Linked DNA regions of Homo sapiens: region 1 is linked to region 2. The links come from fine-mapping of genetic effects on gene expression. Tissue or cell type: whole blood. Region 2 holds a variant in brackets; the other region holds the start of a gene. All regions are shown on one strand. Distances are from middle to middle.

Region 1 (2,909 bases), 21 kb before region 2:
TGTGCACTTGGGCAGGTTAGTTAACTGCTGAGCCTCAGTTTTTTAGTCTGTGAAATGGATATCATGCTTACCCCCTGGAGTTCATTCATTCAATAACTTACTGGGCAGCTATTATGTACCAAAAACTGGGAATGAGGCGTTAACAATATAGTTTCTACCCTAGCAGAGCTAATTTCAGGGCAGAAGAGACAGACCCACACATAAAAATTTTAATAGCCAAGATGAGTTAGACATTCATTACATTTTATAAGTATGAGACAGAAAAATAGGGGTGACCTTTGGAATATACTTAAAAAGTAACATATAAATGAGACCCAGAGGGCCAAAAGGAACCTGCTGTCTAAATGATGGGGTGAAGAGCATTCCCAAGTAGAGGGAACCCAGCCGGCAGAGGTGGGAAAGAGGTCATAAGAAAGGACTTAGGCAAGGCAGGCAGTGGTCCGAAGCGGGTGAGGGGAGAAGACTTGTTAAAGAAATTGGATTTTATGCAATGATCAATGGGACCCCACTGAGGGCTTTAAGAAGGGGAGTCCGATTTACATTTATTTTTTTGAGACAGAGTCTCGCTCTGCCGCTCAGGCTGGAGCGCAATGGCGCAATCTCGGCTCACTCCAACCTCTCTGCCTCCCAGGTTCAAGCAATTCTCCTACCTTAGCCTCCCGAGGAGCTAGGATTACAGGCATCCACCATCACGCTCGGCTAATTTTTCTATTTTTGTAGAGACGGGGTTTCACCATGTTGCCCGGGCTGATCTCAAACTCCTAACCTCAAGTGATTCAGCCGCCTCGGCCTCCCAAAGTGCTAGGATGACAGGCGTGAGTCACCGCGCCCGGCCTTCGATTTGCCTTTTTAATACAGCTGTGTGCTCCAACTCTGCGGAGAATGGGTTGAAGACAAAGGAAGTGAGAGGGCTCTTGCTGAAGGCGTTGGGGACGGAGCAGATTCAGAACGTGAGGAAGTGACGGCAGCAGCTGCTAACCTTACTGCGTGCTCATTTGGGGCCGGCCAGGCACGATTCGAAGCGCCTCACCAAGTGTAAACTCGCTTCACCCTCAGGACAACTCTATACTACGTACCGTGACCGTCCTCCTATACTGGGAAACCGAGCACAGAAAGCTTAAGCGCCTGGCACGTGGTGGGCGCTTTCCTACTCACTTTCTGGGACCACGCACCTGTAAGCTTAGGTCTGGGAATAAAAACCCGAGCAGGGGCCCCTAGCGCCGCGCCCCGGCAGGACACAGGTCTCCGCAGCGCCCGTGCGCGCCCCCTGAGGCGCTGTGATCGGAGGAAACCGAGGCCCCGGGGCCGAGGCGACCCTGCCCCATCTTCCCGGCCGCGCCGCTTCCTCGCGGTCCGCCTCCAGCCCTGCCGGACCCCAGCAGCCCGCGCACCGCGACTCGGCCAGGAGCAGGATCCCGGGCCCGACCGCAGCCCGCGAGAGACCGCACCGAGTCCGCGCCCACTGCCGCCCAACACGTACCTGAGGCGCACAGAACCAACGCTTGCCTCGGATCCCGCCCCTTCGGCGGCCGCCGCGCATGCGCGCAGTTCAAACCCTGGCGGCAGCGGCTTGTGCCTCGAGGCCCGGCCCCTTCCCCTTCCGGAGAGCCCACCGCTGGGTCCTAAAGCCCGCCGGGTGTTTACCCAGGACGGGGCTGGGGAAACCTGGTCTCTCCTAGCTCTTGGCTTACTTCCTGGAGACTTCTTAAAACGAGAGGAGAACCAGAAAGGCGTCCCCTAACTTCGCTCTAGTTAACTAATAGCAAGACTCACCCTCTTTACAGGATTCTCATGGCTCAGGCTCCCAGGGCTCCATGCAGCGGCGTTTGGTTTAAAGTGGAGAGAGGATACGCTTAGGTTAAAGGCAGCTGCAAGGAGACCTGTGTCCTGGGAGGGGCTGGGTGCAGACTTTGAAATCTGCTGCAAAATAAAAAGTTAAATGAGTTCCCATTGGACTCAGAACCTCGAATGTCTGTTCCTTCTTCGCAACAGTTGCGTTCTCGTAAAATCTTCTGAGAAAAGGAACTCGCCCCACGTTCCTTGCCTTTAATAAGGATGTTTGCTGTGGGATTTGGGCTCGGTGCTGTTTATGGTATTTATTCTTGGAATCTCTTTCACACTAGGCATCTCTTCCAGAGGACTGAGTGAAATACATCTGTGTAAATATAACGGCTCGTTTCGTTCTTTCATTGAAGATCTACTTTGTGCCAGGCACAGTGCTAGGTGCTGGGATTATCTTGAGGACATAACAGATGTAGTAGCTGCCCTAGGAGCTCGATCCCAATGACTTGCTGATCTGAACGAGAATCCTGGACTTGGCTCTTTTCGTTTGGTTCTTCTTGTTTGTTCACAGTCTTTTTGTCTCCTATAACGTTTAGCATAGTGTCATAGATCTAAATGATTAAAAGTAACCTATTGCAAGATGGAGGGAGAGAATGAAATAAATCATGAACCAGGCATTGAACCAGCACCTAGAAGCGCTTGGATTTCCAGCCGCGCTCAACGAGTTAAGGGACAGTCAGGGGGTGGAGCCAAGTGCTGGGGGCAGGCCTGGGCGCCTCACTGCCAGGGCGGCTCCAAGGAAACGTAATTAAACAAAGACTCTGGCCAATAGCCCTGCGGGATTAACGCGAGTGGCTGGCAGGTTGTCCAATGGGAGGAGACGTCGGAGTTGCGCGGTGAAGTTCGGCTTCCTGAGCCGCGGTGGGCGTGGCCGCGGTAGGCTGCCAGCCAGGCTGGGAAAGCGGTGGTAGCTGGTTGGGTTGCTGGGGCTCGGTTGTTGTAGTCGCGATGTTCTTCTCCGAGGCCAGAGCCAGGTCGCGGACGTGGGAAGCCAGTCCCTCGGAACACAGGAAGTGGGTGGAAGTAGGTTTCCGGAGGGCGACTGAGCCTCGGACTTCAGCTTGGCC
Region 2 (2,909 bases):
GCTTTGGAAAGTGATCATATTACTACAACATGAGAGCCGAGCTGAACAAAAACTCCTCTGTGCTTTTTAGAAAAGGGTCTTGTATTTGGATAAATGTTGCGTTAGAAGATTAAGACAATTAAAGGCATAGAAGGGAGGGGATATGTTCACACAATATATGCTTGATGAGTTTAACCCCTAGAGTATGGACTTTAAGAAATAAAAGCATATGATTGTGTGGGAAAATAGTGTGAAAGAAATTGATTACACATACGGAGTAATTTTTGTTATTGGATGGGTTTTCCTTTTAAGTGGTAATAGGCATACAGTTTAAATCCACATACATTTTCTCCTAGTAAAAGCTAAAGACTGTTTGTTTTTATCCTACAATATTGTAAAATAAAGACCTGAATACTTCACAGCTCCAAATACTCATGAGTTATCTGAATATGTAATTTAAAAGATATCACCACTCAGGTCCTTTTTTTTCCTTGTGAATTACACGATGAACCAGGAATTGTGCTTTTTTCCCTTTATCACTTCTCTAAGTCAAATGCAATGATAAGAGCAAATATTATCGATGTAGTTCTCTCTGAATTTTGTTTGGTTTTTACTATATCATATGTTTTAAGAAATTGGAGTTTCTGAAGTGACAGTTTATTTTGCTGGCTATGTGAATAGAAAGAGACCTACTTTTTGGCATTCATTTACAGAGTTATAAGATCATTTAAAACATGGGTTTTTTTTTTTCTTTTTTTGAGACAGAGTCTTACTCTGTCACCCAGGCTGGAGTGCAGTGGCACGATCTCGGCTCACCGCAACCTCCACCTCCTGGGTTCAGGTGATTCTTGTGCCTCAGCCTCCTGACTAGCTGGGATTACAGGTGCATGCCGCCACACCTGGCTAATTTTTGTATTTTTAGTGGAGATAGGTTTTGCCTTGTTGGCCAGGCTGATCTCAAACTCCTGACCTCAGGTGATCTGCCTGCCTCAGCCTCCCAAATTGCTGGGATTACAGGCGTGAGCTACCGCACCTGGCTAATTTTTGTATTTTTAGTAGAGACAGATTTTGCCATGTTGGCCATGCTGGTCTGGAACTCCTGACCTCAACCTCTCTGCCCACCTTGGCCTCCCAAAGTGTTAGGATTATAGGCATGAGCCATTATACCTGCTCTAAAACACACATTTTAAGCCTGGCATGGTGGCATATGCCTTTAGTTCC[G/A]GCTACTGGGGAGACTGAGGTGGGGGATAACTTGAGGCTAGGATTTTGAGGCTGCAGTGCGCTGTGGCCATGCCTGTGACTAGCCTTTGCACTCCAGCCTGGGCAAGAGAGCAAGACCCTGTCTCTAGGAAAAAAAAAAAAAAAAAACCCACATGCATTTTAATGCTTTTTGCTAAAAACTAGAAATAACATCTTGTTTGTTATTATTCATTGAATGTTACTTACTCAGCAAACATGTAATGAATGCCTACTGTCTGCTAGGCATCATGCTAAACATGGGATAAAATTTTGAGAACACTATACACTGCTTTCCCTCAGCATGTCTCAGGCAGACATGTGGCCAAATAATTACCGTAGATCCTAATCACTTCTATGATTGCATGATGAACAAAGGGCCGTCGGGTCACAGAAAAAGGACTTAGCTGAGAGAAATCAGAGACATATTCAAACAGGAGATGATGCCTGGGTTGCATCTGGAAGGAGATACAAATATTCACTAGGAGAAAAAAGGAGAAAGTGCATTATTCCAGGCAGTGTGTTCTATACATGCAAAGGTGTGGAGTGCGAAAGGGCCTCTTGGCTTGGGGAAGCACCAGGAAGTTGACTAGGAAGCCTTGAGAGGTGGACTGGGGTACGTTTCTGAAGGGTCTCCTAGGACATGCCATTATCAGTGAATACATTATTCAAGAATTTCGGCTACTCTAGATGCTACTTAATTGACTAGATTTTGGTGTTCATGAAGCTAAAGTTATGGATATGATCTTATGGGCACATGGCATAGCTAGACTTCAATTTTAACCTCAGCTAACAATTTGTCATTATGTTCTCTGTCACAAGGGTAATTAGATAAGAATGGAGCTGCATCAATATGTATTCCCCACAACTATGGAAAAAAATGCTACATATGCTAATTTGCTACAGTACGTATGATTGAGCACCTGCCAGGCACTCTGGTAGGTGAGGGAGATATGCCCTGTTGCCTAGAAGACAGCCGGCCACCTCCTGAACTTCTCCTCTTGGTTGTCTCCAGAGCACTGAACACTTCACACAGCTGAATGGCAACTCTTCATCTCGCCCCAATTTTGCTCTTCCCCCAGACTTTCTCCTCTCTTTAAGTAGCTCTTCAAGCCAGAATCTACGGGATATTCTTGACATCTCTTTCTTTCTCACCTGCCACATCTAGTTCTTCATCAAGCTATGTCATTTAGATTCTAAAATATATCTGGAAACCTTCCACTCCTCTCATCCCCACTGCCAGCAACCTGGCAACCACATCTCTTGCCAGTAGGCTCCTAACTGGTCTCTCTTTTTACATTTTTGCTCCCCCACCTCCGTCCTTTTATCAGGATAATAGCCAGAAAGATCATGTAACTTCCCAATTCAAACCTTCTGTTGACTTCCTATTGCCACTTAAATAAAACCCAAATTATTTACTGTGGCCCACAAGAGCCTGTGAGTTTTGGCCCCTGCTGCCCTCCCCAACCTCATCTTGTATCACTTCTCTCTGGCTCACTTTGTTCCAGCCACAGCAGCCTTTTTTCATTTTCCCACCTTGCCACACAACAGCCTCGGCACAGGCTGTTCCTACTGCCAGCAATGCTCTTCTTCCCAACATTAGGCAGTTGGTATTGTCTCATGGTTTAGGTCTTGGCTTAAATATCTCCTCCTTGAAGGGCTCTCTCTGTCACCAGAGTCTACTTGACATGAGG

What was found. PIP is the estimated chance that this variant, and not a neighbour inherited with it, causes the effect.
Region 1: it holds the start of TDP1, and the variant in region 2 is fine-mapped to the expression of TDP1 in whole blood (TOPMed, PIP above 0.99).

Annotation. Positions count from the first base shown.
Region 1 is chr14:89,954,542-89,957,450 of GRCh38, reverse strand. It overlaps TDP1 (tyrosyl-DNA phosphodiesterase 1), which reads right to left and starts at 1,524. Exons shown (of 17, transcript NM_018319.4): 1 at 1,481-1,524; 2 at 651-873. EFCAB11 (EF-hand calcium binding domain 11) reads left to right here and starts at 2,721. Exons shown (of 6, transcript NM_145231.4): 1 at 2,721-2,865. The coding sequence starts at 2,791. RefSeq lists a silencer at 1,197-1,426 and an enhancer at 2,492-2,909.
Region 2 is chr14:89,933,836-89,936,744 of GRCh38, reverse strand. The region is part of intron 3 of EFCAB11 (EF-hand calcium binding domain 11); the gene reads left to right. Among named protein-coding and RNA genes, the nearest start is that of EFCAB11, 19 kb to the left of the region's middle. The variant G/A (reference allele first, on the strand shown) is at 1,201.